4 linked regions of the Homo sapiens genome follow. The protein of the gene in region 2 binds, or shares a complex with, the protein of the main gene of each other region. Each region holds a gene or a part of one and is shown on either strand. Other genes may lie near its edges.

The links.
Region 1: POLR3E (region 2) and CRCP share a complex: the UniProt entries of both Homo sapiens proteins name them as parts of the RNA polymerase III complex.
Region 3: POLR3E (region 2) and POLR3C share a complex: the UniProt entries of both Homo sapiens proteins name them as parts of the RNA polymerase III complex.
Region 4: POLR3E (region 2) and POLR3D share a complex: the UniProt entries of both Homo sapiens proteins name them as parts of the RNA polymerase III complex.

What each region holds. Positions count from the first base shown.
Region 1 is NC_000007.14:66,145,485-66,152,907, reverse strand, and holds part of CRCP (DNA-directed RNA polymerase III subunit RPC9), read right to left. Parts: coding exon 7,408-7,423; intron 701-7,407; coding exon 551-700; 3' UTR 1-550. UniProt on the Homo sapiens protein: DNA-dependent RNA polymerase catalyzes the transcription of DNA into RNA using the four ribonucleoside triphosphates as substrates.
Region 2 is NC_000016.10:22,292,390-22,300,482, reverse strand, and holds the start of POLR3E (DNA-directed RNA polymerase III subunit RPC5), read right to left. Parts: upstream 3,075-8,093; 5' UTR 2,946-3,074; intron 2,063-2,945; exon of another isoform or gene 1,447-2,062; intron 1-1,446. UniProt on the Homo sapiens protein: DNA-dependent RNA polymerase catalyzes the transcription of DNA into RNA using the four ribonucleoside triphosphates as substrates.
Region 3 is NC_000001.11:145,819,602-145,827,208, reverse strand, and holds the start of POLR3C (DNA-directed RNA polymerase III subunit RPC3), read right to left. Parts: upstream 3,010-7,607; 5' UTR 2,840-3,009; intron 2,765-2,839; exon of another isoform or gene 2,681-2,764; coding exon of another isoform or gene 2,662-2,680; intron 1,453-2,661; coding exon of another isoform or gene 1,433-1,452; coding exon 1,286-1,432; intron 756-1,285; coding exon 500-755; intron 390-499; coding exon 204-389; intron 1-203. Other genes in the region: E3 ubiquitin-protein ligase RNF115, read left to right, coding at 3,336-3,437. UniProt on the Homo sapiens protein: DNA-dependent RNA polymerase catalyzes the transcription of DNA into RNA using the four ribonucleoside triphosphates as substrates.
Region 4 is NC_000008.11:22,240,937-22,248,263, forward strand, and holds the start of POLR3D (DNA-directed RNA polymerase III subunit RPC4), read left to right. Parts: upstream 1-4,196; 5' UTR 4,197-4,247; intron 4,248-4,508; 5' UTR 4,509-4,513; coding exon 4,514-4,678; intron 4,679-6,284; coding exon 6,285-6,328; intron 6,329-6,920; coding exon 6,921-7,072; intron 7,073-7,217; coding exon 7,218-7,327. UniProt on the Homo sapiens protein: DNA-dependent RNA polymerase catalyzes the transcription of DNA into RNA using the four ribonucleoside triphosphates as substrates.

The sequences.
Region 1 (7,423 bases), on a different chromosome or scaffold from region 2:
GAAAAGGGGCTCTAGAGCTGTTGAAGGATTGGCCAGGCCGGTTCTTTTCTTATCTCTGTTGTTCTCGAGGAAATTCCTCTAAGGTGAGCCAAGGTCAGTGGCTCATTTTAACTTAGAGTAACTCTCTGGGGACTCTAACCAGACTTCCAACAGTGCTCTGGGCCCCTTAGTAAGTTCCCAGGGAAGCAGATGAAACTAATTAGGACATGGCCCACCAAAGGCGACACAAGCATTTTCCCCGCTGTGCACAGAGACCTCCCCACAACTGGGGCAAAGGCCGTGGAGGAAATCTTTCAAGCACAGAGGGGTCCGCGGTCACTGTCCCCACCTTCAGCTCTCTGCCCTGACAACCTCAGCCTGTTTTCACCATGTTTCTTCTCCCCAAGGCACAAATATTTCTTTTTAACTTATTTTTGTGATGTACCCAACTAACCACAAAGCCAGGCCTGCTGGGATGAGGATAAAAATCAAATAAACAATCCTCTCAACGTCCAGGAAATGGCTGCCAGGCCTTCTGACTTCATGAAACGCCGGGGCCAGCTGTGCTCTTCTATGCTGGGTCCTCTTCGTCCATTGCCACATTGCTGTTTGTATTCTTCTTCTGCTCAGCCTCTGGCTCTGCAGGCAGAATGCTGGTGACGGTGTGGAGAAGAGCTTCAATCTGCTCCTCCGTGAGCCGCTCTTCACTCTCTTCCACCATCTGCAGAAGGAAAGAAAATCCTCCAGGGTTACAAATGAAACTTACAGCCTTGGGCAGCCCTGCCCACTGTGCTCATGGTCTCAGCCCGGCCTCCTGGCACACAGACCTCACAGCCTGGGTCCTCGTGAGTCCTCTCCATCTTACAGACGGAAGGGTGGAGCCAAGTCACATCCTGGACTGAGCCAATGCGACTGATCAAAATGGGTCAGTAAAAACCAAGTTGTAGGATAGCATTTTTCTTTAAAGAAAAGGAAAACCCCCAGCCTGGGAAGCACAGAGGAACCCCATCTCTTAAAAACAAACAAAAAAAATCAACCAAGCATGGTGGTGTGTGCCAATAGTCCCAGCTACTTGGGGGGCTGAGGTGGGAGGATCACTTGAGCCCAGGAGGTCGAGCCAAGCACTCCAGCCTGGGTGACAGAGCAAGACTTTGTCTAAAAAAAAAAAAAAAAAAAGAAAAGAAAAAAAGGAAAAAGCTAAGTTATATAACCACACACACACACACACACACACACACACACACACACACACACAGAGAGAAGTGGTGAACAGGTTGCATATGCATCTCGAAGAAGTTAAATGGCACTTTATGTACTTTTATATTTCACAAGCACATCTGTAATTTTTTTTTTGGGGGGGCAGGACAGAGTCTTGCTCTGTCGCCAGGCTGGAGTGCAGTGGCACAATCTCGGCTCACTGCAACCTCCGCCTCTCAGGTTCAAGCAATTCTCCTGCCTCAGCCTCCCGAATAGCTGGGACTACAGGCACGAGCCACCACAGACAGTTAACTGTTCGTATTTTTCGTAGAGACGGGGTTTCACCATGTTGGCCAGGATGGTCTCAATCTCTTGAGCTTGTGATCCACCCACCTTGGCCTCCCAAAGTGCTGGGATTACAGGCGTGAGCCACTGTGCCAGGCACACATCTGTAATTTAATGAACTGTATCAGCAACACGGTTGATGATGCCCACTATGTGCCAAATGGTTTGGAGCCTTCTTCTAATCCTCACTCCCACTAGCAACAGCCCTGCAGGGAGGCCTCCCATGTGTCTGGAGCTGCATCTTGCACTTCCCATCCGGCATTTCCTTTCGTCCTCCCAACAATGCTGCTAAGGGGTAGAACTGGAATCCCCAGCCAGAACTGCCCAGTCTAAAACCCACAGTCCCCCACGTTGCACACCACACTGCCCATCAAAGGTCCACATAAAACCTGGTTTCTGATGTGGTCCCAGAAATCTGAATCTAGAGATGATACTCACAGCCTGAGCCAGTTTCCTTAGCTTCGCCCCTAATTCTAAACAGAATTAGGTCGTCAGCTGCCTTTTTAAAAGCAGCAGGCAGGCAGTCAAGTTGCTTAACCCTGTTTGCTTGGTGGCATCAACCATCAATCACAAACACCTTTCTCAGCTCAAGGTGGCCAGATTCTATTCCATGGCATTCCCCACAGCAATCTCTGAAATCCGGCAACTGGGACCACAGGGAGTTCCAGAAAGAAATCCTGGCAGACTGAAGTAAAACAAGATAATAAGACAGGCCTGCAATCCTGGAGAGGATCCCAGTCTGACCACCTCCCTTTACAGACAACAGCACAGTTCAGGAAGTCATGTGACACGCCCAAGGTCACACCACGAACTCCTGGCAAAACCCTGGTCTCTCCACTCACTTCAGCCCAAAAGTGTTTCTGCAACTAGATAATAATCCTGGTGTCCCAGGATGGGGGAGATCCTGAGTGAATCAATGGGGGCTACTCCCTATGATGCTGTGAAATAAAATGACCATTTTCTAAAGATTCCATGGCTCAGGAAAATGTAAATTCTCTTCTGAGAAAGAAACAATCTTCAACTCCCCCCCTTCACTCTTGTTGCCCAGGCTGGAGTGCAATGGCATGACCTTGGCTCCCTAGCAGCTGGGATTACAGGCATGCACCACCACACCCAGATAATTTTGTATTTTTAGTAAAGACAGAGTTTCTCCATGTTGGTTAGTCTGGTCTCGAACTCCTGACCTCAGGCGATCCACTCACCTCGGCCTCCCAAAGTGCTGGGATTACAGGAGTTAGCCACCGCGCCCGGCCAAAAACCCATTTTTAAAATCAGACATGGGGCCGGGTGCGGTGGCTCACGCCTGTAATCCCAGCACTTTGGGAGGCTGAGGTGGGCGGATCACAAGGTCAGGAGATCGAGACCATCCTGGCTAACACAGTGAAACCCCGTCTCTACTAAAAATACAAAAAATTAGCTGGGCGTGGCAGCGTGCGCCTGTAGTCCCAGCTACACGGGAGGCTGAGGCAGGAGAATGGTGTGAACCCAGGAGGCAGAGGTTGTAGTAAGCCAAGATCGTGCCACTGCACTCCAGCCTGGGTGACAGAGTAAGACCCACTCTCTTTGGGGAAAAAAAAGGTGGGGGTGAGGGATAATGTAGTCATTGTCATTTATCCTAGTGATCCAAGACGTGCTAGTAAGTTTTTTATTTCTGAAAGTTTCTTTTTTGTTTATATTTCATTTAGTTTAATGCAGCTTAGGGTTTCTTCCTGTGACTGGGAACCTTAGGTTGAAAAAAAAGGTCTTGACTGTAATTAAGGAGGATTGGATGTTGATAAAAGCTCCGGCCGTTAGTGAACTTAGCAAAATTCTTTTCTGCACATTATTTTCTCAAACGGAGATCATCTTTTCTCCAGGTTAAATAATCAAATCTTGGCTATTTCCCTCCTTTCCCTGCTTTATTCTTTGGGCGCAATCATCACTTACTGCAGTCTCAAACTCCTGGGCTCAAGCAATCCTCCTGCCTCAGCCTTCCAAGTAGCTGGGACTATAGCTATGTGCCACCATGTCCAGCTAATTATTTTTTATTATTTTTTGTAGAGATGGGGTTGCCCAGGCTGGTCTTGAACTCCTGGGCTCAAGTGATCCTCTCACATCACCCTCTCAAAGTGCTGGGGTTATAGACATGAATCACTGTGTCCGGCCTTTCACCTTTTCTTTCCAACACAGGAGAAACAGTCCAAATAAAGAAGTAAAGTTCAAAGCACCATCTCAAGGTTCTCAGATACCAACCATTTCAGGTAGTTGAGAACATAAGGGGAAATAAAACTTAAAAATCCAAAGTATCAACAGCTGGGTTAACATAAATGATACATTTATTATCTCAATCCCAGGAGCATCAAACCGGGTTGCCGACCTCCAAAAATGGCAACTTGAAGTCGCCAAACCTAAAGTCCTACTTTCCTCAAAATGATTCAAAGATCTGATAGCAACAATGTATACTATTAAATATTTGATCCAGAACAGTTCACTGAATCTGGCTTTCTAAATTTCAACTTTCTCTAATGTAAAATGAAAGTAACGCCTACAGCGAGGACAAAAGGAGAACACATGTAACAGTGTTTTACAAGCAATAACGCTCTATATGAGTCAAGACTTCATAATCACGAAATCACTAACAGGCCTAGATGGTAGTGCTGTTCAGGGCAGTGGCCTGTGAGGTCACAGGATTCACTGACCTCAGGCCGGAGGGCTCACAAATCATTCCAAATCAATACACAACCGGGCACAACAAGTCCTAAGCTGGGTGGCCACCTCATTTCCTCACCGAGCCTCTGAGTCAGCAGGCAGTCATCAGAGGGCCACAGCAAATCACAGCCCAGGCGTAACTGAAGAGGTGAGGCTTCAGCCTCCAAAAGACACCTGGCTTCCAAGTGAATGCTAATAAATGTTGGATGCTGGGACTGTTTTCTGAACCCAGGGAGAAAAAATGGCTCTAGTGTTAATATAGGGAACTTCTCACTCAAGTCCTTTGTGCTTGCCACTGTAAGTGAAACCTTTTATTTCCTTTTGTTTTCTAGAGAAGGAGTTTCGCTCTTGTCGCCCAGGCTGGAGTGCAGTCACGCTCACTACACTTCGCTCACTACAACTTCCGCCTCCCAGGTTCAAGCGATTCTCCTGCCTCAGCCTCCCAAGTAGCTGGGATTACAGGTGCCCGCCACCATGCCCAGCTAATTTCTGTATTTTTAGTAGGGATGAGGTTTCGCCATGTTGGCCAAGCTGGTCACAAACTCCTGACCTCAGGTGATCCACCCACCTCGGTCTCTTAAAGTACTGGGATTACAGGCGTGAGCCACCGTGCCCAGCCATTTGCTTTTTTTTTTTTAAAAGACAGGTTCTTGCTCAGTCACACAGGCTGGAGTACAGTGGCACTATCATAGCTCACTGCAGCCTTGAACTTCTGGGCTCAAACAATCCTCTCACCTTAGTCTCCTGAGTAGCTGGGACCACAGGTGTGCGCCACCATACCTGGCTAATTTTTTTCATTTTTTGTAGAGATGGGGTCTTACTATGTTGCCCAGGCTGGTTTTGAATTCCTGGCCTCAAGCAATCCTCCCACCTTGGCCTCCCAAAGTGCTGGGATCACAGGCGCAAGCCACCATGTTCGGCCACAGCTTTCATTTCTTATTCACTCTGGTGAGAAGCGATACTGCTACAAACCTTGGTAAACAATTTGCTACCTTTTGTAGCCAAATTCCAGAGTGGGAAGAATCTGGCTATAAAATGGTCCAACTACTGAGAAACAGCAGTTTCTACCAAGGCCTACCTACTTTGTAGAAACGAGAAGGAAACCATCTCAGGGGATGCCACACACATCTTTCTTCTCATCAAGCACAAGTACCTGGCTTGGAGGAGCAAAGTAAAGCTTCTGAATCAGAAGGTCCCAATCAGCCACTCACCAGCCCTCTGGGCTAAAATGGAGAGGACACTTGCCCCCTTCCAAGACTATGGGGCGGGCATTCGAAGTGACAGACAATCACAGGCACCAGGACCAAGGACTGAGACCGTGTCTGGCACACCCCATGCACTCTTTTTTTTTTTTTTTCCCAAGATGGAGTCTCACTCTGTCACCCAGGCTGGAGTGCAGTGGTGCAATCCTGGCTCACTGCAACCTTGGCCTCCCGGGTTCAAGTGATTCTGCCTCAGCCTCCCAAGTAGCTGGGATTACAGGTGTGCACCATCATGCCCAGCTAATTTCTGTACTTTTAGTAGAGATGGGGTTTTACCACTTTAGCCAGGCTGGTCTTGAACTCCTGACCTCAGGTGATCTGCCCACCTTGGCCTCTCAAAGTGCTGGCATTACAGGCATGAGCCACCGCGCCCGGCCCACCCCAGGCACTCTCAATAGCAGCAAATCTTCCCCCAAGTAATGATACCACTTTCCACAGGCTCTGGCTGAGGTCACACTAATCCTCATCTCTTCTCTCTGCCTGTCATTAAGCCATGAGTAACATATGTTGCTGATTAAAGCTGGAGGAGACATGACATATGATCTTTAACCCAGAGGGACAGGGATTCGTTTCTTGCTGTTCTGTTTGTTTTTTCTCTCCTCTAAGCTCTAGGTTGAAACTCCAATACAGTGTAAAGCATGAAAATAATCAGGACACATGAGAAAGGGGTTTCTATTTAGCCTACAGGCGGGTTCCCAGAGAAAGGCACCCTTCATGAAAGGAACTGTTCTAATTTAATTTTGGGTACATTCTGAAGGGCAAAAACAACCCTAGGAAGACAATGAACAATTTAGTAAAAAATTAAATACCCTGTGGCCTTTTAAAAAGTTTTTCCATTAGCAACTCTAAAAATCGTATTTTTGACCATTTTCTTCCATACTTTTCTAAAGGAAATTTGACAAAGAGCTAAGTATTTCTAAAACTGACTTTGGAAACTGCTTTATTCTCATTTTGTTAATTCTCTAAAGTTTCTTCTTCTTTTTTTTTTTTAAACTGGCAATTAGACGGCCTGCTTAACACTTGTCAGGTACCGATGCTCTCTGCCCTGTAATAAGAAGGCAGCGGCCACAGCGTGCCCAGTGGTGGCCCGGGTATCTCCCTGGATCATTTCCCGGGCCCCTTATCCCATCGTAGGCCCCTCTACTCTGGCTGCCTCCTCCTATTCCAAAGCCTACGCTCTCAGTACAAAGCGGACTTCACAAGTGATGAGGCTGTACTAAATAAACGGTTTATGCAGGGAAATGGGATCACATTCATGGTTTTAGATGTGATCTCTGACGGTGATGTGGGAGATGGACTTGGGGAGCCAGGGAGAATGGGGAGAGGATAACCGCAAGAGCCGCGTGAAGAAATAATGGCAGAAATCAACGCAGTACACGGGGGAGAGAAGCAAGAACGAAGACAGAAGCAACAGAACTTGGGGACTCCCTGACTGTGAGATGAAAGGAAGAGAATGGCTTGCAGGTTTCCGGCGTGGGAGGCCAGGCCAGGAGATGAGCAAGGAAGGGAGCTGATGGGACAGCGCACACATGCTCCCCTCACCCAGAAAGAGAGGAAGCAAGAGCAGGGTGAAGGGTGGGCGTGGGGACAGAGAATGTTCACCAGAGACATGCTGAATTTCATGTTTTTTATGCAACATCTGGTTGGCAACAACGCCTACAGGGAAGCAATGGCCAGAATGGCCTGGACATCAGGGGAGTCGGAGAGCCGCCAAGTCATCAGCCAAAACCCTAGAGGAGGAATGAAATCTCCTCCAGTGTTTTGTGGTCCCTAAGTCCACACTAACTAGGATCAAACTGGCAAGGTCTCTTTTTCCTTAAGAAATGGAGTGGTTGGGCAGCCTCTTAAAAAAAACGCAGTTCCTGGCTTGTCCACCACAGCCATTCTACATCTCAGACCCACAGCAGCCTCCCCAGCACAGGCGCCCTTCACTCACCAGCTGGATCTCCACA
Region 2 (8,093 bases):
CCTGTTGGCCTCTGCCCTGCCAGGGATCAGGGAGGCTGAGGTGCCCTGTCAGCTAGAGAGCTGGAGCTCCTTCCTCTGGATAGTACATCTGGGTTGATACAAAGAGTGTCACCTCCCTTCATCCTCCAGGCCGAGGTGATCCAACTCAGTGGCTTTCAAAGTTTTCAGCCTAAGATCCACCACAGTAAGAAATCCATCTCATATAAATAACCCAGAACATACATACAGTTGCATAACTGAAACAAGGTTTCACGTAACTATAACTGTCCCTACTATATGTCAGGCCGTGATGTTTTCTACTTCATTCAAAACAAAAAATGCTAGCTTCAATTCCCTTAAATTGATTTTACTTCCCACTAATAAATTTTAACCTGCAATGTGAAAAGCACTCATCCAAGTCTCCCTACGGCTCCTTATACCTACCTCCAAGTCTCCCAGCAACAGTGAGTCTTTGGAAAGAAGTAAATCAGGCTGGCATGGTGGCTCATGCCGGTAATCCCAACACTTTGGGAGGCTTAGGTGGAAGGACTGCTTGAGACCAGGAGTTCGAGACCAGCCTGAGCAACATAGTGAGGCGCCCCCCGCCCCCCGGTCTCTCTTTAAAAAAAAATTTTAGCCTGGCATGGCCTGCAGTCCCAACTACTTGGGAAGCTGAGGCAGCAGGATTGGTTGAACCCAGGAGTTTGAGGCTGCAGTGAGCTATGATCACACCACTGCGCTCCATCCTGGGTCACAGTGTGAGACTCGATCTCTACTGGGGGGAAAACAAAGCCAGGCACGGTGGCTCACACCTGTAATCCCAGCACTTTGGGAGGCCGAGGCAGGCGGATCACCTGAGGTCAGGAGTTCCAGAAAAGCCTGGCCAATAAGGTGAAACCCCGTCTCTACTTAAAATACAAAAATTAGCCAGGCGTGGTGATGCACGCCTGTAATCCCAGCTACTCGGGAGGCTGAGGCAGAAGAATCACTTGAACCCAGAAGGCAGAGGTTGCAGTGAGCCGAGATCTTGCCACTGCACTCTAGTCTGGGCAACGGAACAAGACTCCATCTCAAAAAAAAAAAAAAAAAAAAAGTAAATCATATTATTTCCCTGCCTAAGACCTGTCAACTGCCACTGTCACATAAAATAAAACCCAAACTCCTTTCCATGAGCCACCTAAGGCCCTACATAATCTTGTCTCTGTCTTCCCCTCACCATCCAGGCTGGTAGCCACTTGCTGGGCCTCCAACAAGGCAAGCCCCAGTCCACCCCAGGTCCTTTGCACATCATCTATTCTCCCACAGGGATTTCCAAGGTTGCTCCTTTTTATTAAATATCATCACCGCCTGCAGGAGAGGATAGGTTCCCTGACCACCCTATTTTAAAAGCCTCCCCCAGCCTCCTCCCAGGCCCTACCACATCTCTGTTTTCTTTCCTTGGTGGGTCTCATCTTAATCTGGAACTACCTGGTCTATTTGCTCAGGTGTTGTTTGTCTTCTGCAATAGAACGTAAGCTCCATGAAGGCTTCTCAGTGCTTCAGTTTCCTCAACTATGAAATGCAGACAATCATACTTTACTTCATCAAAGCTGTTATGGGGAGCATTACTTTAAAAAAAAAATCCAGTGCTGGTTCTCTCAATACCTAGAACAGTGCCTGGCACGAAGTTGACACTCAATATAGTACAAAGAATACTTTATATTTAATCTTCTCATTAGCCCTATCAATAGAGATTTATCATCTTCAATTTGGAAATGACGAGACTGAGGTTCAGATATAAGCAACTCATCCAAGGTGGAATGAGGACAGAAACTTGGGTCTCGCTATGTCAAAGATCCTTATTCTTATTCTTAACCACTATACTGCACGGTTTTCTGATAAACGGCAGTATGGTTAAGTGGGTAAGAGCTTGGACCCGAGAACAAAACTGTGCAGGTTCAAATCCCACCACAGCTGCTTGGCATCTGTGACCCACCTGAGTTGTCTGGGTTTGGTATTCCTCCCTATTTTCATCCCTAAAGTAGGGAAACTAAGTACCGACCTCCAGACCCCTGCGGGGAAGGAGTAAGGACAGGACGCTAATAAACGTAACCTCTGGGAAGGTTTGTTATTACTTGACAACATGTTTTCTGCCAACGTAAGCGGGTAATGACGCTAAGCCACAAGTCAAACGCTGCAAGCAGGAGCGTCACCCGGTTTCTACTGAGCCGTCACCACAACCCTATGAGGTAGGAATTTCTATTATCTCTATTTCACAGATGAGGAAACTGTGGAGATCGCTAAGATCTCTTCTTTCCGCCTCCAAGCCCAAGGAATTCTAAAGCTAACCCAAAGGAACGACCTTGTTTGTTTACTGACACCTCCTCGGACCGAATGGTCAGGGCTGTATCCGGAACACAGAGTTGGCTCGGTAAACACTGAATGGTTGCCTGAATAAATGAATGAGGAATCCCTGGCCTCGCCGGGCAGAGGCTAATCCGGTTCAGCTGCGAAGTGGGGGCTCCGGCAGGCGCAGGTGCCCTCCCTGCCCATCGGGGCGGGCCGCCGATCCCGAGCCTCGCTGTCCAATGGGTTTCTGCTCCCTCGCGGGTGGTCAGGCCCCCCTTCTCACGCCCACCACGCAGTCCCTGCCGCGAGCCGCCACTACACCCGACGCGCGGACAGGTGTTTCTTCCGTAGGAGGCCTCCCAGGCCCGGATAGGGCAGGTCGGCTGGACCCTGAGTCACCGCCGCCAGCGTCGGCCGCGGCCTCCCCAACTCCCAGGTGTCAGGTCAAGGAAGTCAGAGTCCGGGGTCGGCCTGGAGCCGGCTGCCCCTCCTCCCCGCCCGAGTCCCGAGAGGCCTCCAGCTGCTAGGCACAGCGCGGCGCGGGCCTCCTTGGCCTACTCGGGAATCTAGCCCAGGCCCACGTCGTGAGTGCGGTCCGGCTCAAGCCCCAGCTCGGGCACTGCCAAGACGGGACTCACCTCTCCGCGGGGGCCGAGCGCGGACGGCGGCAACGGCCCAGTTACCCGCGGGCTGCAGAGACGGCGGCGGCCCGGCTCTCCTCTCAGGCGGCGGCCATGTTGCTGGTGGAGAAACTCCGGCGGACACGTGGGGGGGAGCGGGCCGGCCCCAGCGTTTCCTCTTACCCACAATGCCCCGCCCCGGTGCACGCGGCTCCGCCCCCTCCGCCGCGCCATTCATGCAGGCCGTGAGCCCCGCCCTGCAGCAGGGGGCGCTGATGGCACGCGCAAAACTGAGCCAGGAGTGTATGCAGCGGGGACAAAAAGACAGCAACCCTGGCAGCGGTGGGATTCGAACCCACGCCCCCGAAGAGACTGGAGCCTTAATCCAGCGCCTTAGACCGCTCGGCCACGCTACCCAGCTGCAATATGTTTATGCCAGAAAGCTACTTAATGCTTTTGCTTTTGCATTTAATCTGGACATTGCGAGGCGTTTTCGCTGAGGTTTTTTTTTTGCTTAACGTGTGTTCAAGGTGATCCCTATAGAATTATTTTAAAAAGCCGTGTTTTGGAAAATAAACACTTGCTCCAGTCTTTAGACCCAGGTTGGTTCCGAATAGGTATTAGAGCAAAACGCATTTTTAGAAACTTTACTCTGAGTTGGATGGTTAACCCGGAGACCCCTGGTTAACCCACAGGTAATCCATACGACCCGGATTGGGTGTCTCCGGGAGAAGAAATTGATCTGATCAGAAACATGCACCAGGGGATCTGACGGCCAAACCCTGGAGCTGGTCTGGGCAGTTGTCTCTGAAAAATTATGTTTAAATTTTTACTTACACAAATAACACGCGAATTATTGCAAAATATTTAAACTTTGCAGATAAGGTACAAATGCTCTTTGACCTTGACTCGCATCCTAGGCCCCTCCGCCGAGGTAACTAACCATTATTATCTGTTTAATATGAACTATGGTTTGAATGTGTCCCCCAAATTTCATGTGTTGGAAATTTAATCCCCAATGTGGCAGTATTGTGTGGTGGGCCCTTTAAGAGGTGATTAGATCATGAGGGTGGAGCCCTTATGAATGGATTAATCTCTTCATGGATTCATGGATTAATGGGTTAATGGATTAATGGGTTATCTTGGGAGGGGGACTGATGGCTTTATAAGAAGAGGGAGAGAGACCTTAGCTAGCAAGGGAGCAGCTCAGCACCCCCTCCATATGATGGCTTGTACTGCCTGGGAACTCTGCAGGTGTCCCCCACCAGCAAGAAGGCCCTCACCAGATGCACACTCTTGACCTTGGACTTCTCAGACTCCATAACTGTAAGAAATAACTTCCTTTTCTTTACAAATTACCCAGTTTCAGGTATTCTGTTATAAGCAACAGAAAATGGACTAAAACACTATATATCTTTCTAGATCTTTTGCTGTGAATTTATATGTTTATATCTATATGGATATATATAGATATAGCCATAGAAGATAGCTTTGTTTTTATTGTGTATGGATTTGAACACAAATATTGTCACATTATTCATATAGATCTGCAATTGGCTGTTATTTTTCACCAGACTGTATTTTAAAATACCTATCCGTGTGGATATGCAAAGATATTAAAAACAAAAATGCACAAAAATTACAAAGAAAAAAATTATCATCCATAGTGCCACCACCTGGCATTAAATTAATGACTTAGTATTGTGGCATTTTTTTCCTTTTCTTTTTTCTTTTCTTTTTTTTTTTTTTTTTTTTTTTTTTTTTTGATGTGGAGTCTCGCTCTTGCTGTCTAGGCTGGAGTGCAGTGGTGCGATCTCCGCTCACTGCAATCTCTGCCTCCTGGGTTCAAGCGTCTCTACTAAAAATACAAAAATTAGCCTGGCGTGGTGGCACATGCCTGTAATCCCAGCTACTCGGGAGGCTGAGGCGGGAGAGTTGCTTGAACCCGGGAGGCGGAGGTTGCAGCGAGCCGAGATCCCACCACTGCACTCTAGCCTGGGCGACAGTGAGAAACTCGGTCTCAAATAAATAAATAAATAAATAAATAAATAAATAAATAAATAAATAAAAAATAGATCACACTATTACAAATAGAAATTATTAGACCATTGCAAATAGAAATAAGTCCCCCTCCCATTCTCCCCTGTCTATAACTGTCATGAATTTGATGTGTATCTTTCCAATAATTTCTTACATTTTTACTATAAAATTTATGAATAATATCTAAAATGGTTATCTGTATGTTTTTCACTTATATAAATGTTAGCACATTGTACTGATATCCTAAAACTTGCTTTTCTCATTTCAACAGTATTATTATTATTATTATTTTAAGAGAGTGTTGCTCTGTCACCCAGGCTAGAGTACAGTGGTGCAATCATAGCTTACTGTAGCCTAGACCTCCCGGGCTCAAGCCATCCTCCCACCTCAGCTTCCCAAGTAGCCAAGATTACAGGCATGAGAGACTGTGCCAGGCCCAACATTATGTTTTTGAGGTCTGTTATGATGCCTATAGATCTAATTCATTCATTCCATGCCATGTACAACTTTTAAGTTGTTACTAAATTTTTGTCATTACACACAATATGGCAGGAAGTATCCTTGCACATGGCTCCTTGTCTTACGTATGGACATTTCTCTAGGGTATACACTAGAAATGAAATTGCTGGTCTATATTTATACTTTCCCTAGTATTATATAATAATAATATTAATAATAGGCTGGTCTCAGTGGCTCACTCCTATAATCCTAGCACTTTGGGAGACTGAGGTGGCAGGATTGCTTGACGCCAGGAGTTCAAGACCAGCCTAAGCAACATCGAGAAACCTTGTCTCTACCAAAAAACAAAAGAAAAGAAATTAGCCGGGCATGGTGGCATGTGCCTGTAGTCTCAGCTACTTGGGAGGCCGAGGTGGGAAGATCCTTTGAGCCAGGGAGGTCAAGTCTGCAGTGAGCCGAGATTCAGGTGCTGCACTCCAGCCTGGGTGAGAGAGTGAGACCCTCTCTATATAGATATAGATATGCATATATTTTTCCATTTTGCCAAATTATATGACTTTTGATGACTTTTTTTTTTTTTCTATTTCTTCCTGAGTCAACTTTGGCAAGTTGTCGTTTTCTGGGAAAACAAAGCCCCATTACTTGATTTTTCACATTTATTGGCGTAAGAAATCTCAAATATCCCTCATATCTAAGGTTTTGTCCTCTATCATTCTCTATCGTTTCTCTTTCCCTCTGTCATTTACGTGGATTACTTTCTCCATTAGTTCTGTTCAACACAGGGAGTGGAGTCAATGCTTAAGGTGACTGAATGGGGGAATTAGGCAGGAACTCTACGAACGCTGGTGATGCTTTAGACACATCAAAAACTATATAAATCACACTTTTATAAGTAGAATTCTCATTTTGCATTGACTGGTATTAGACTTTTCAGGGCCATGATTCAAGTTTCTGGCTAATATCCAGTTGGTACACACCCCTAACATTTGGGCATTTTATGTCTTTCCTCTTCAATCCCTCCTTAGCCTGGCTTTTCTCCCCCTCCATCCACCACCTTTTTTTTTTTTTTTTTTAGAGAGACGGGGTCTTGCTTTGTTGCCCAGGCTGGAGTACAGTGGTATGATCACAGCTCACTGCAGCCTTGACATCCTGGGCTCAAATGATCCTCCCATCTCAGCCTCCCAAGTAGCTGGGACTAGAGCCACGCGCCACCACACTGGGCTAACTTTTGTATTTTTGTAGAGACGGGGTCTTGCTTTGCTGCTTAGGCTGATCTCAAGCTATCCTCCCACCTCAGCCTCCCAAAGTGCTAGAATTACAGGAGTGAGCCACCACACCTGGCCATCCATCTACCTTTAACATATGTAATGATATGCAAAGATTTTCTTGTGCTAGAAAAGTTTGTTGCTCTTCAAGACATTAAAAAAAAATACAGAAGCAGCCATGGATTGAAGACAAAGGGTAGGCATTGTGGGGAGTTCAAAGCTGAATGAGGAATAACCCCTTTAAGTCAATAGGAGTGTTTGTCATGGTATTTTAGTACCAGGAAGGACTTTGTTTGTGAGTTGGGTACTGGATTTTCCAAAAGGAAATATCCTCACAGTCAAGGATAATTGCTGGCATCTTTGCCCAGTCTGATTTTTCTAGGAACTGCCTGACCAGCCAGAGAGTGGGTCCCTGGCAGCCACCTTTGTGCTGCACGCCCCACCCCCACAGCCATGGCTAGTGGGTTCTACCGTTCTTCAGTGGACGTAGGATTCAGGTTGGACCAATCAAATTCTCTCTTGAGAATGTGAACTGAGACTCCGTGAGTTACTGATTTTGTTTTTTTTTTGTTTGTTTGTTTGTTTTGAGACAGAGTCTCGATCCATTGCCTAGGCTGGAGTGCACTGGCGTGATCTCGGCTCACTGCAACCTCTGCCTCCCAAGTTCAAACAATTATCCTGCCTCAGCCTCCCAGGTAGTTGGGATTACAGATGCACGCCACCATGCCGGGCTAATTTTTTTGTGTTTTTATTAGAGATGGGGCTTCACCATGTTGGCTAGGCTGGTTTCGAACTCCTGACCTCAAGTGATCTGCCCACCTCAGCTTCCCAAAGTGTTAGGATTACAGGCGTGAGCCCCCGCACCCGGCCCGATTTGTTAATTTGACCGTGTTGCGTTGGAATTAGTCTCTGAGGCTGGCTAAAACTAGGAAGAAAGGGGGATTTCGCATGGCTATATTCTGTGAGGTGAGTTGGAGAGGTAGACAAAAGCCAGTGTATAGAAAAAGAGGGAATGAGAGAGTGAGAAGAGCAGAGTCAGGGAAATCCTGATGGTTTTCTGGCTTCCAGCTCCAGACCCTTTCCAAGGCCCAGTGGGTTGTCCACTCTTGGAGGCATCCCTTTATCACTGTAATAAATTCCCTTTCTCTGCTAAAGCCCAGTGCTACTTGGTAGTTGTCAACTGTAAACAATAACCCCCTCCCCCTTGCAAGGCAAAGGCTCAAATGAAGCTGTGTGTGTGTCTTTGTGTGTGTGTGTGTGTGTGTGTGTGTGTAGAATTTTTTTTTTTTTTTTTGAGACAAGTTCTTGCTCTGTTTCCCAGGCTGGAGTGCAGTGGCACAATCATTGCTCACTGCAGCCTTGACCTTCTGTGCTAAAATGATCCTCCCATCTTAGTCTCCTT
Region 3 (7,607 bases), on a different chromosome or scaffold from region 2:
ATATATCGATGTGATTTTCCGATTAATGTATGTCTCCTATACTAAAGCCCCATGGCAGAGACCATGATTTTTTCATTGTTATACACCACGATGTCTGGCACATAGCAAATACTTGGTAAATACAATCACATTTCATACACTTGACAATCAAGAAGAATCCACAATTAAGGCAAGTCACAGTTCCAGGGGTTAAAATTCCTTACCTATCAAGCTGAGTTTAGGAACCAGGTACATGTCCTTTTCATTAATGACAAGTGTGGGGGCAGGTGGTGGTGGCCCAGGGTCTGAATTCTCAGTGGTAGGTACCGAAGGGCAGCGTTGTACAAAGTGTGTGTCTGCCAGTCGCACAAATGTGTTTGATACTTCAGCATAGTCCATGGTCTTGCCATCTGTATAACAGGAGGAAAAAGGCAGATGAGATGGCCTAAGATAGCTCAGGGTTCACTCCCATAGCCAGCTGATCTATGCTTTTGTTAACAGCTATGGATACCATACTGACCCTCCATGGTCTCTGTGAGCCGGTCTGCCACTTTCTTCACAACAGCTGACATTGTCAGTTTGCCGTTCAACAGAAGCTCCTCAACAATCAGCTCTCCAGTGTCACTGTACAGAGTTTTGGTAGTATAGATGTACCGGGGATATCTAAGCATTCGCAATACCCGGCTGCACTGGGCTTCATACTCCACCACACCACGTTTGTGCACTTGATAACTCACCAGGTTATGTTGGACGAGGACACACAGGGCTTTCTTCACCTAAATGGAACATAAAGAGAAGAAAGAGAGGAAAGACCTGAAGATATAGCTCATTACTGCTGGCAATTTTTTGTCCAACAGCTTAGTAAGCATCAGAAAATGGCTAGATAATTTCTGCACTTATTTCCTCTCTCCACTGGAGGAGCTAATAAGAATCACACATCAATACAATAAATCAGGAAGATTCCTTGCTATATTTCCTCTGATCCTTATCTCTCAAAACACAATTTACTTTCATCATTCTCATTCCTTAAAGGCAGTACTGAGATTAATAGACTTATTGTGAATAAATGAGGTACGGCATGGGAAGAGCAAAGATTTGCCTAAAAGCTGTGATGAACTAGGAACACTTTGAGAAACAAAATGTTGATGTCTAAGTCTCATCCTTTTCTCCCCGAAATAACATTGTTCTGCTCCAAGGGCAGGCTTTCTTCATTTTTCCTTTTCTGGGGTGAGAAGAACAATATTCAAAGGTGGGTGAAATAAATTAGTGAAAGAAATGAGAGAAAATGAATGTCATTTAGACATACCTGATCCAGTGATGTTCCTGTGTCATGGGCAATTACTCTTAGTGGCTGGCTGCCGGTTCTTATCAGATGGACTCCAATTTTTTCTACAATCTCTCCAAAATGCTCTTGCAGCAACAAAGAACAGAGCTTAATTTCTGCTTGAGTCATTGTACTGGGGAGTCTGAGAGCTAGGGAAAAAACACCAAAATGGTACAATAGAAAGTCTTTCACGCTGGAAGCAGAGCTGCTGAGTGTAAATTCATGTATTCTTTCTGGAGGGCAATTTGACAATACATATCAAAAAGCCTTAAAAATCTTGCATATCTTTGAAACAACAATTTCTTTTTGGATATTGTGTCCAAAGAAAGAAAAAGCTAATAATAATGAAGTCATTAGTTCTCTTTATAATACCGACTTAGTGGAAACAATCTAACGTCTAACAATAAATGATGCCATACCCATACAATGGCATACTACACCAACATTTAAAGTTATTTAGTACGATGCGTATTCATGTAGAAAATTATTCATAATAGGCTGGCGCGGTGGCTCAGGCCTGTAATCCTAGCACTTTGGGAGACCGAGGTGGGCGTATCATGAGGTCAGGAGTTTGAGACCAGCCTGGCCAATATAGTGAAACCCCTTCTCTACTAAAAACACACAAAAAAATTAGCTGGGCGTGGTGGCGGGTGCCTGTAATCCCAGCTACTAGGGAGGCTGAGACAGGAGAATCGCTTGAAGCCGGGAGGCAGAGGTTGCAGTGAGCCGAGATCGCGCCACTGCACTCCAACCCGGGCGACAGTGCGAGATTCTGTCTCCAAAACAAAAAAAAACAAAAAAAATTACTCATAATATATTAAGTGACAGAAGCAAGCTGAAAAAATATAAAAATTCAATTATTGTAAAAAAAAAGGAAAAATGTATGCATAGGAAAAGACTATGCATCAAATTTATCTCTATGGGATTATGCGTGATTCTGATTTTCCTTAAAGATTGGGAGATGATTTTGCGGTCTGTCACAGACCTTAGTTTCTACACTTCACTGCTTGGAAGAATTAAGGTCACTGTTCACAGCTCGGTGGGAGTGAACAGGCAGTGTTATTCTCAGTCCATAAAGGAAATGATAATTTCGAAAAAGAAATTTAGGAGGTAAAGGACTGCTTCTCAACAGGGTGTGTCAAACAGGAGATGAGGTTACGTTGTTTGCAGGACAGTATTCAATTCTTAAACTTCTACTCCTTGACAAAGTTGACACAATCAGAAACGGACGTAGTTAATTTTATGATTACTTCCTTATTACAAATTGCTACCAAACATTGTTTACTTATTTCTTCCAATTCCTAAGAAGCCAAGTCTTTGCCTCCCCGTCCCCACCCCGCCTCAGTATCACCAGAGACCTATTTCGTCCATCCACATATCTTTGGAGAAGCATTCCCAGATCCTTTGCCATCCTCGGAAAGGGCTTCCAAGGCGCTTGGCTCCTAGCTCTACACTTCCTTTACACAGGTTCCCGTTTCGGACGTGGTCTCTTGGTCCAGTCAGTGCCGCCACGTTCAGACAGCATTTTCCACTAACCTCAGGGTCAGCGCAATCCGGGGGCTCCAACTCCAATTCGGCTGAGCTTCCCGCGACGGCTTCCTACGGCTCCCGCTGGCCTTCTAGGCCGAGGTGGAGCCCACCGCCCTTTCTAGGACGCGGATCGCCACCGAAGAAGACGCGGAAAAGCAAAAAGCGCGTGCCACTCTACCCCAGAGTTTCGGCGGCTTCCGGGGACGCTCTTTCTTTCTTCTCGCTGGAAGACTGGAGGACCAGCGAGGGGCTGTTTGTGGAGCCGGCGGGCGGGCCGTTTGTCTCTCCTTCCTGCGCCTCTTTGGTGCTGGGAGGCGGGCCGCAGGGTAGCTGTTGGCGCCGCCGCGTTTCTGGGCCTGGCCAACTCACGTGACCGACGCGGGCTCTGAAGCGGTGGGCCGCACCGAGGCGGCGGCGGCGGCGACGACTGCAGCTCGGGAGGTAGCGGCCTGGCGAGGGACGGGCCGGCTGCCCTCTCGGACGGCCGCGGCGGAGGGCAAAAATGGCGGAGGCTTCGGCGGCCGGGGCGGACTCGGGCGCCGCTGTAGCCGCCCACCGGTTTTTCTGCCACTTTTGCAAGGGCGAGGTCAGCCCCAAACTACCGGTAAGAGCGCTGTGTTCTCTATACTTGGGAACCTCATAGATTCCTGGCCCCGATTTCCCGGAACTGGGTCTGGAGCTTTCTGCACATCATTGACTCGCCCGACATCGGTCTGCCGAATACCTGCTGCCCACTTCTAAGCCGCCGGCCCTAAACCCTGGGCATCACGGCCTCGGCCCCGTACCTCCTGCCCACCTCTTAATTCATCCTGGGCTGCTCCACCTGACCTCACCTCTTTACCTCCCGTGTCCTTAATTTTTTTTTTTCTTAGCAAGTTTCCCTCTGATAACTCTCCCCTCAATTTTCTTGCATTCTTTTATACCTGGTCTTTTTCCTACGATGACCTCCCCCCACACTTCTTCCACTGTGTCTTCTCACCTTCCTCTGTGTTCTTTTCCACTTTTCACCCCCCACCGCCCCCGCCACCTCCCTTGTCAGTGAAGCGAAATAGCGGATTGCTGAGGATTGTCACTCTTCGGTTTTTTCTAGGGAAGGAAGCACAGAAAGGGGGTTGGAAGGTATCTGTGGGGCGAAAAGGGGGATTTTGCTCTTCAGTGGTTTCCAGGGTCCTTGTGACAGTGAAGACAGCAGCGTACTAATGACTTGCAGACGGTCTGCACTCCTATCACTGTTGAAGGAAATGGCTTTAGGAAGAAGGCAGGACGTACTGTTTCAACTTCGTTTATTTTGGTTGTCATGCTGCCAGTGTCTTTAATATCATTGTTCCGCCCCCCGCCCTGTCCCTTTCTTCACCTAAGAAAAAGAGCCGGGACAGAATGTTGGGGATGCTTCCTCTGACGTGAAATTGGTTTTCACGAGTTTCTGCCAGAGTGTTAGCCCCTTGAGAGGCAGTGCTGTGGTTGGGAAGAAAACACTTTTGTAGGTCAGGCGCGGTGGCTTAGGTCTGTAATCCCAGTGCTTTGGGAGGACGAGGCAGGAGGATTGCTTGAGGCCAGGAGTTTGAGACCAGCCTGGGCAACAGAGTGAGACCCCTCTCTACAAAAACAAACAACATTTATGCAGCATACTAGCCAGCACCAGCATCACAAACCCAGAAACTGTTTTGGGTTGGGTTGTAGCTACTACGAGGAGCTCCCCCAGAGTGAATGTCAATCCTGTCCTTGGCCAACTGTCTTTATGGTTGTTCCTTTCCTTACAAGTGTCCAGGTTCAGTCTTGTGATAGAGTGGCAACATAATGTATGTTTCTATTTATGGTGTCTCAGATACAGTGTAGGAGAAAACCTTCTGAAGTGAGTCTGTATATCTTATTTCTTAGAAACACAAATGGAGTCCAGTGAATAAGTGCTTAAAGGGTGTTTTATAGTCTTCTCTCACTCAAAAGTTTTGTTTAAGGCATTATGATACATTCTTTCCTCTCTACTTGCCGCACCCCCTACTTCAGAGTCATAGTTTCATCTAAATGCTACTTAGCTGTTTTTCTTTTTTCTTTTTTTTTTTTTGAGACAGCCTCTGTCTATCACCCAGGAGCATGATTTCGGCTGACTGCAACCTCCACCTGCCGGGTTCAAGAGAGTCTCCTGCCTCGGCCTCCGGGTAGCTGGGACTATAGGTGCACGACCACCGCACCCTGGCTAATTTTTGTGTTTTTAGTAGAGATGCAGTTTCACCATGTTGGCCAGGCTGGTCTCGAACTCTTGACCTCAAGTGATCCACCCGACTCGGGCTCCCAGAGTGCTGGGATTACAGGCGTGAGCCACTGCTCCCCGCCTAAATGCTACTTAGCTTTGTTTGCTGATTTTGCTGTGTGTTTATGTTTTTTTTTTTGGCCATATTTCAGTGCTGGGAAGAGCAGGTGTCTAGTTTTTTTCCAGCCAACATCAGAGCCTGCAGAACTCTTCTACCATAGAGAGGGAGTCTGGAATTCAGCCAGTATGTGTGTGACCAGTGGTGTGTTGTTGAATGTGATGCCTTGTTGAATATTCCATCCTTAGCTTTTTTGATCTTTAAGTTGCTGTTCACTATTTTGCCTTTAAGAGTGAGAAGTTGGCCAGGCGTGGTGGCTCAGGCCTGTAATCCCAATACTTTGGGAGTCCAAGGCAGGCAGATCGCTTGAGCTCAGGAGTTCGAGACTAGCCTGGGCAACATGGAGAAACCCCGTCTCTACCAAAAAATAAAAAAATTTGCCGTGTGTGTGGTGGCATGCACCTGTAGTCCCAGCTATTCAGGAGGCTGAGGTAGGAGGATTGCCTGACCCCAGGAAGCAGAGGTTGCAGTGAGCTGAGATCGCACCATTGCACTCCAGCCTGGGCAATAGAGCCAGACCCTGTCTCAAAAAAAAAAAAAAAAAAAAAAAAAGAGTGAGAAGACAGTCTAAACTTCCCCAATTGATTATATCTTTTCTTCTCACCTTTAAGTCCTTACTTCAAAGGGATAATTTGAAAAGCTGAATAGGTGTTTTTCTAAGCCTTAGTTAATGCCTGGAGAAGTTTCTTGATCTTTTTGGTGTGATATATTATTTGTCATATCTGATTTGTAAATTGAGGCCTAACACAATTGAGTATAACCGGATTCTTCCTAAATATATCCAAGGTTCTCTGCTGAGTGTCCTGGAGGTGATAGGGAGTGATATGTGGCTCCTGCCCTTAAGGATCTTACAGCTTTTGGGGAAAGACAAGGCAAACATAGAAAAAGTAACAGCATAAAGGGAATGAGGATATGTGCTTTAGGATTCAGAGAGGGGAATTTCATAGCATTGGTGTGGCCAGTGGGATTTAAATTGAGTTTTGAGGGATGGGTACATTTCAGATTGAGAATTCCAAAGACTGTGAGGTAGCAAAAGGAAGAGGGAGTTGATGAAGAAGGGAGAAATATTTAATAAATCATGTTTTTTTCACAACTAAAAGTTGTATACTATATTTTTTATAGTGTTCAGCATGATTTGATATATGTATACACTGAATGGTTAAATCAAGCTATTTAACATGCATTACCTCACATACTTATTTTTGCGTGGTGAGAACACTTAAAATCTGTCTTAGCAATTTTCAAATATACAGTATATTCCCTTTTTCTTTTTTTGAGACTGAGTCTCGCTCTGTCACCAGGCTGGAGTGCAGTGGTGCGATCTCGGTTCACTACAACCTCCACCTCCTGGGTTCAAGCAGTTCTCCTGCCTCGGCCTCCCAAGTAGTGGGGACTACAGGCACGTGCCACCATGCCCAGCTAATTTTTGTATTTTTAGTAGAGACGGGGTTTCACCATGTTGGCCAGGATGGTCTCCATCTCGACCTTGTGATATGCCCACCTTGGCCTCCCAAAGTGGTGGGATTACAGGTGTGAGCCACTGCACCCGGCCTCTTTTTTTCTTTTTAAATAGAGACAGAATTTATTCTGTCTTGTTGCCCAGGCTGTTCTTGAATTTGTGGGCTCAATGTGTCCTCCCACTATATCCTCCTGAGTAGTAGTAGATAGGTGTGTTCCACCATGCCTGGCTAATTTTTTTTTCTTTTTTGTAGAGATGGGATTTTGCCATGTTGCCCCGGCTGGTCTCAAATTTCTGGGCTTAAGCAATCTGCCTGCCTCAGCCTCCCAAAGTGCTGGGGTTACAGGCATGAGCTATTGCGGCTGGCCTGATATGTGGTATTTGTTTTTAATTCTGTTTATGTGATGAATCACATTTATTGATTTGCCTATGTTGAACTAACCTTGCATCCCAGGAGTAAAGACTACTTGATTGTGGTAGATTAGCTTTTAATTTTTATTTATTTATTTTTTTGAGATGGAGTCTTGCTCTTTAGCCCAGGCTGGAGTGCAGTGGAACGAGCTCAGCTCACTGCAACCTCTGCCTCCTGGGTTCAAGCGATTCTCGTGCCTCAGCCTCCCAGATACCTGGGATTACAGGTTTGCACCACTAGACCTGGCTAATTTTTGTATTTTTGGTAGAGATGGGGTTTCCCCGTGTTGGCCGGGTTGGCTTTGAAATCCTGACCTCAAGTGATCTGCCTGCCTTGGCCCCCCAAAGTGCTGAGATTACAGGTGTGAGCCACCACACTGGCCTGCATTAGCTTTTTAATGTGCTGCTGGTTCAGTTTGTTAGTATTTTATTTAGAATTTTTGTGTCTGTGTTCATTAGGGATATTGGCCCGGAGTTTTCTTTTTTCATTGTGTCTTTGCCAGGTTTTGGTATCAGAATGCTGCTGGCCTCATGGAAT
Region 4 (7,327 bases), on a different chromosome or scaffold from region 2:
GGAGCTTGCAGTGAGCCGAGATTGCACCACTGCACTCCAGCCTGGGCGACAAAGCGAGACTCCGTCTCAAAAAAAAAAAAAAAAACTAAAAAAGCTACTACCTGGTGAACTTCAAAGCCCAACAGAATGAAATCAAAGCTATTTCATCCAGTGCTCTAATTAGAAGCTAAGGGCTGCTGCGTGTAGCTCTGTAGGGAACAGGAAAAGGGTATTGGTTTGGTTTGATTATTGTAAAATCAACATGAAGAAAGAAGTTGAAAAGGATCTGTTTAGAAAACAACATAACAAAATATTAATATATTAGTAAATTGGCAAACAAAGTTCTAAATTTTAAAAGCCAATACTCAAAAGGATGTGGCCAAAAAATTATATATTCTCTTTTTTGTTTTTTTGAGACAAGGTCTCCTCTGTCTCCCAAGCTGGACTGCAGTAGCACAATCAAGGCTCACTGCAGCCTTTGACTCCTGGGCTCAATCGATCCTCTCTCCTCAGCCTCCCAAGTAGCTGGGACTACAGGTGGGTGCCACCAAGCCCTAAAATTATATATTCTTATATACTACCTCTCTCTCTGTGTGTGTGTGTGTGTGTGTGTGTGTGTGTTTACACACACATTAATTTCGGAGTCAATAAAAGTTGTTTTTTGTTGTTTTTTTTTGAGACGGAATCTTGCTCTGTCTCCCAGGCTGGAGTCTACACTCCAGCGCAATCTCAGCTATCTGCAACCTCCGCCTCCCGGATTCAAGCTATTCTCCTGCCTCAGCCTCCCAAGTAGCTGGGACTACAGGCACATGCCACCACGCTAGGCTAATTTTTGTATTTTTAGTAGAGACGGGTTTTCACCATGTTGGTCAGGCTAGTCTTGAACTCCTGACCTCGTGTTCCGCCCACCTTGGCCTCCCAAAGTGCTGGGATTACAGGCGTGAGCCACTGTGCCCGGCTCTTTTTTTTTTTTTTTTTTTGACACAGAGTTTCGCTCTTGTTGCCCAGGCTGGAGTGCAATGGCGCAATCTTGGCTCACTGCAACCTCCTTCTCCCAGGTTCAAGTGATTCTCCTGCCTCAACCTCCCGAGTAGCTGGGATTACAGATGCCCGCCACCAGGCCTGGCTAATTTTTGTACTTTTAGTAGAGACAGGGTTTCACCATGTTGGCCAGGCTGGTCTTGAACTCCTGACCTCAGGTGATCCACCCACCTCAGCCTCCCAAAGTGCTGGGACTACAGGTGTGAGCTACCACACCTGGCCAATAAAAGTTCTTTAAATTCCAACGGTAGAGCAAACTTGGTATTCAGATTCCTTCCAGGTTTGACCAAAAGTGCACATGAGGGTCACTGCTGTGAGCCCAGGAAGGGTGGGACTGGGCACCGGTTGATCCAATGTGGCTGTTCCAAGGCTGCCCACACAGCCTCACCCAGGAGTCCTTCAAAAGCCCACAATGTGTGTGTGTGTATATAGTGTGTGTGTGTATATACGTTTGATTATTGTATATACACACATTCTTAGTGTTGATGCATTTCAGCACAATCTTGTTTTTTTGTGGGGTTTTTTTTGTTTTTGTTGTTTTGAGACAGTCTCCCTCTGTCACCCAGGTTGGACTGCAATGGCGTGATCTCAGCTCACTGCAACCTCCGCCTCTGTGGTTCAAGCGATTCTTGTGCCCCAGCCTCCTGAGTAGCTGGGATTATGGGCGTGTGCCATCACGCCCAGCTAATTTTTGTATTTTTAGTAGAGACAGTATTTCACCATGTTGGCAAGGCTGGTCTGGAACTCCTGACCTCAAGTGATCTGCCCACCTCGGCCTTCCAAAGTGCTGGCATTACTGGCGTGAGCCACCACGCCCGGCCACACAATCCTTTTTGAAAGCAATTTAGCAATATGAATGAAGAACCATAAAATGTGCATGTACAAAATGGTACAGCCCCTGTGGAAAGCAGCTTGGCAGTTTCTTATAAAACTAAGATACAACTACCATATGACCCAATGATTGCACTCATGGGCAATTATCCCAGAGAAATAAAAATTTACGTTCACACAAAACCTTGTACATGTATTTTCACAGCAGCTTTATCCATAATAACCCCAAACGGAAAACCACCAGATGTCTTTCAAAGGGTGAATGGTTAAACAAACCATGAATACTCTGCAATAAAATGGAACGAACTATTGATACACACAACTTGGATGATCTGCGGGGAACAATGCCGAGTGAAAAAAGCAATCCCAAGAAGTCACATACTGTATGATTCCATTTATGTAACACTTTTGAAATAACAAAATGGCAGAAATGGAGAACAGATTAGTGGTGGGAGGAGGTGGGGGGAGGGAGGTGTGGCTATAAAAGGGCAACTAGAGGGATCCTTGTGGTGATGGAAACTTCTTGTATCTTAACTGTACCAATGTCAATATTCTGGTGGCAAGAGGTTACTACTGGGGGAAAACGAGTAAACAGTACTTGGGATCTCTCTACATTATTTCTTACCACTCTACATGAACCTACAATGTTCTCAAAATAAAAAGTTTAATTTAAAAAATGTTTTTAGAGATAGGGTCTTGCTGTGTCACCCAGGCTGGAATGCAAGGGCTGGATCATAGCTTACTGAAATCTCCAACTGCCGAGCCTTTCAAGCGATCCTCCCACCTCCGCCTCCCAAAGCACTGGGATTACAAGCCTAAGCCACCGTGCCTATCGCAAATATTTACTTAAAAAAAAATCTTCTTTTGGCCAGTTATCCCAGGACGGGAAATCTATCCCGGGAATATAATCCAAAAGAAAACAAAAACAAAAACAAAATCGAAAAAAAGCAAGTCAAATGTACCAGACATTCACTGCAGCATTATTTAAAACAGGGAAAAAAGAAACAATCAGGGAAATACTTAAATCATGATACAGCCACTGGAGAACTACGCAGTCTTTGATGTCGCAACAGAGAAATGTTATTTGAAAAAGGAGGATACAGGCCAGGCGTGGTGGCTGATGCCTGTAATCCCAGCACATTGGGAGGCCGAAGCGGGTGGGATCACTTGACCTCAGGAGTTCAAGACCAGCCTGGGCAACATAGTGAAACCCCGTCTCTACGAAAAATACAAAAAAAAAAAAAAAAAAAAAAAGAAAAAGAAAAAATTAGCCGGGCGTGGTGGCATGCACTTGTAGTCCCAGCTACTCAGGAGGCTGAGGTGGAAGCATGGCTTGAGCCTGGGAGGCAGAGGTTGCGGTGTGTTGATCGCACCACTGCACTCCCGTCTGGGCAACAGAGAGAAACCTCGTCTCAAAAAAAAAAAAAAGAAAGAAAAGAAAAGAAAAAGGACACGAAATTGTGATACGACAACTCTGTGAAGACTACTAGATACATTACAAAATTTTTAATAGTAGTACTCTACGTGGCATTCTGGTAGAAATGATTTCCTTTCCTCAAACTCCCCATAATATTGTTACATGGTTTTTATACGGTCTGGGGGATGGGGGATAACATTAAATGACACCTTTTATGTTAAATCACAAACGCTGGAGTCAACAAAAGTTCTTTAAATTCCTCCAGCAGTAGAGCAAACTTGGTATTCCAATTCCCTCCAGGCTTTGACCAAGAGCGCACACGAGGGCCACCGCCTTCGTGATCAGAAGCGGGTATGACTGGGCACCGGTTGGTCCACTGCGGCTGTTCCAAGCTGCCCCCACAGCCTCACCCCAGGACTCCACCAGGAGCACAGGGAAGGGGTCCCCGAAAGTGGGCGAGGTCGCTGCCCGGAGGTAATGACCACTCCAAGGTCACCATGGAGAACCCGCAGACAGGGCTCGGTGTGGCCCAGGACTCCCCGACTCTTAAGTCCAGGTCTCACTCTCTGCGCCGCGCCGCGCCCCTCGCCCCATCCCGAGCAGCTACCCCGAAGCTCCCAGGGGCTCCGCCGAGGCGAATCCTCACATTGCGGCGTGGTGGCCGACAAAACCCGGGACCCTGATCTTGGCGCCTCCACGCCACCGCCCGGAGGCCAAGACCCCCGAGCGCCGCAGCATAGCGTAGCCCAGACCAGTCACCTCATCCTTTTTCGCCCTCTCAACCCAGCTTTTCCCGACTCCGGGAAGAACCGGGAAGAGAAGGCGGAGGGGAGCGAAGCGCCGCCTGATAAATACTGTGGCCCAGTCCCGCCCCCCTAACGTCACTTCCGCCCCGCGCCAAGATGGCGGCGCCCAGGCCCTGCCACGCAGACTTCCGCCCGGCGCGGAGACCGAAGGCTGGCGGCTGGTCGCGTTGCAGGTGAGGTTGTGACGCGCGGTGTGGAGCCGCGGCCCGGGTGCGTCCCTGTCTGGTTCCTGGGCGGGGTTCCTGGAGAGGGCGTGTCGCGAGCCAAAGGCTCTCACCTGGGTGGTCCCGGGAGTCTCGCCACGTGGGAGGGGAGGAGCTGAGAGGCCACTGGAGGGACGCACCGACTGGGGGACCGGAAAGCAAGGGGGTGGGGTTCCGCCAGGGTCCGCGTGTCAGTCCCCTCTGGTGATCTCGTCGCCCCTTCTCTCCCAGGCAACATGTCGGAAGGAAACGCCGCCGGCGAGCCCAGCACGCCGGGAGGGCCCCGACCTCTCCTGACTGGGGCCCGGGGGCTCATCGGGCGGCGGCCGGCGCCTCCCCTCACCCCCGGCCGCCTTCCCTCCATCCGTTCCAGGGACCTCACCCTCGGGGGAGTCAAGAAGGTACCCAACGGCGCGTTTCTAAAGAAACTCAACTACCTTGAATTCCAAGCCCCAGGATTCAACTAATGTTTGTGTAGGACCTACTGTGTGTCAGGACTGTCGTTGGGCCTCTCAAGCCTACCCCTCTTTAAATTCTAGGGAGTCTGTCCTACCTTCAAATCTAGGTACTGAGTACAAGATGTTGAAATGACTCCCAGAGGTGGTTGAAGGGCAGAGAATCCTAATAAGTTAAAGTCGTTCAAAAGCAATTTGAACAGTGTTTATTTACTTTTATTGTGTGTTTGGACATCTTTAAGAAACCCATGAAAGCCAGACAGGCATAAACTTCGCAGTCTTAGAGGGTTCAGAATTCACCATCTCTGTGTGCAAACTTTTTATCTAGAGTATGATGAATCCTAGGTATGGCATTCGAGGCTCTGTGGCCTCTCCCATGTGTATATGACTGTGGATGTCAAGAGTAGCCCAGAAAGGGGTGGGGTCAGGATGACAGAAGAACAAAGCAGGTTTTGGTTTTGGTTTTGGTTTTTTTTGAGAGGAAGTCTCGCCGTTGTCCCCCAGGCTGGAGTGCAATGGCACGATCTCAGCTCACTGCAACCTCTGCCTCCCAGGTTTGAGCGATTCTCCTGCCTCATCCTCCTGAGTAGCTGGGATTACAGGCGCCCGCCACCATGCCCAGCTGATTTTTGTATTTTTAGTAGACACAGGGTTTTGCCATGTTGGCCAGGCTGTTCTTGAACCCCTGACCTCGTGATCCGCCCGCCTGCCTCGACCTCCCAAGGTGCTGGGATTACAGGTGTGAGCCACCGCTCCTGGCCGAATAAAGCGGTTTTTTGGTTTTTTGTTTTGTTTTTAAGGGAATCTCTTTCTGTCGCCCAGGCTGGAGTGCAGAGGCACCATCTCAGCTCACTGCAACCTCCGCCTCCCGGGTTCAAGCGATTCTCCTGCCTCAGCCTCCCGAGTAGCTGGGATTACAGGGGCCCGCCACCGCGCCCAGCTACTTTTTGTAGTTTTTAGTAGAGACGGGTTTCACCATCTTGGCCAGGCTGATCTTGAACTCCTGACCTCGTGATCCACCCACCTTGGCCTCCCAAAGTGCTGGGATTACAGGCATGAGCCACAACGCCCAGCCATAAAGCAGTTTTTAAAAACCTAACTTTGCCTTGGAAAATTGTGGTGACAGTCCATAGTCACCTGATTGAAAGTGTTGGCAGATCTATGGCCTTCCCTACTTAGGCCTTGCTGCTAGAGCTGTTCCCCCATGATACTGACTGGTCTCTATAGCAGTTTGAAGAGAAGAGGTGAGACCAGAGAAATTCCTTTGCTTTTAGAAGTCCCAGAGGATCTTCTTTCAGAGGCAGAACCTAAGGCTGCTGGTTAAAAGTGGGTTTTGGTGCCCCCTTCTATGTGTAACTCCACTGCTACCACACTATGACATTCCTCCTTTTCAGGCACATGTGTATCTATAAAACTGACAGCACTGTGGAATGTGCCAACGAGAGCCGTGGTGGCCTTGGTCTGTAGAAGATGCCCTTTGGGAATTTTTATTTTCCTCTGTACTTTGGGGTCAGAACCTAACACATCAGTGACTCCTGTATTTTGCTTTCAGAAAACCTTCACCCCAAATATCATCAGTCGGAAGATCAAGGAAGAGTAAGTAGCTAGGCCTTCTGAATACTTGCCCCTTATTTACTTGCTCTGAATTTGGGGCTTTGGGGGAAATAACTAGGTTTGTAGCTCCAAAATTTAAATTTATATCTTTAGTTCTTTTCACTAGTGATTTTCAACCCTGGCTCCTAGGTGATTCTGCAAGCTTTAAAAAATAAATAAATAAATAAATAATTACTGGTGTCTAGGGTTCCATCTTTAGAAATTGTGATTTAACTTGCTGGCAGTAGAATGGAGTGATTCTCTTTGTTGCCCGAGTTGAGAGCCAATAGTTTAAACAAAGATGTATCACACTTTCCCTGAAGTTCCTTTGCATTTCTGCCTTCCTGCTTTCAGTCCCAATGCAAACAAAAATCTATATTTTTGGACAAGAAGGTAAAGTAAAGCAAACTGAAAAAATCCTGCCTCATCAAGGAAGTGAGAAAAGTGCTAGAATTAGGATTGGATTCTGCTTCTCATGGTGTAAATATTGGCTCAAACTCTCCACTGTTTTGGAGTGAAGTGGTATGGGAGAGTAAGGCCAGATTTTGGAGACACAGTGAGTGAGTGGTTTCCCTTAATCCATTCTTTTTTCCAGGCCCAAGGAAGAAGTAACTGTCAAGAAGGAGAAGCGTGAAAGGGACAGAGACCGACAACGAGAGGGGCATGGACGAGGGCGAGGCCGTCCAGAAGTGATCCAGTCTCACTCCATCTTTGAGCAGGGCCCAGCTGAAATGATGAAGAAAAAAGGTATAAGGAAGGAATCAGTGAATTTCAGTTCAGACTGCCCCAGAGAAGGGCGAGAACAGTGGAATTTCCCCACTCCCATTTCCGTTTTCCTTGCTGTTGGGCATCTTCCTTATCGATCCCTAGTGACCTGGGTGATTTCCCACAGGGAACTGGGATAAGACAGTGGATGTGTCAGACATGGGACCTTCTCATATCATCAACATCAAAAAAGAGAAGAGAGAGACAGACGAAGAAACTAAACAGATCTTGCGTATG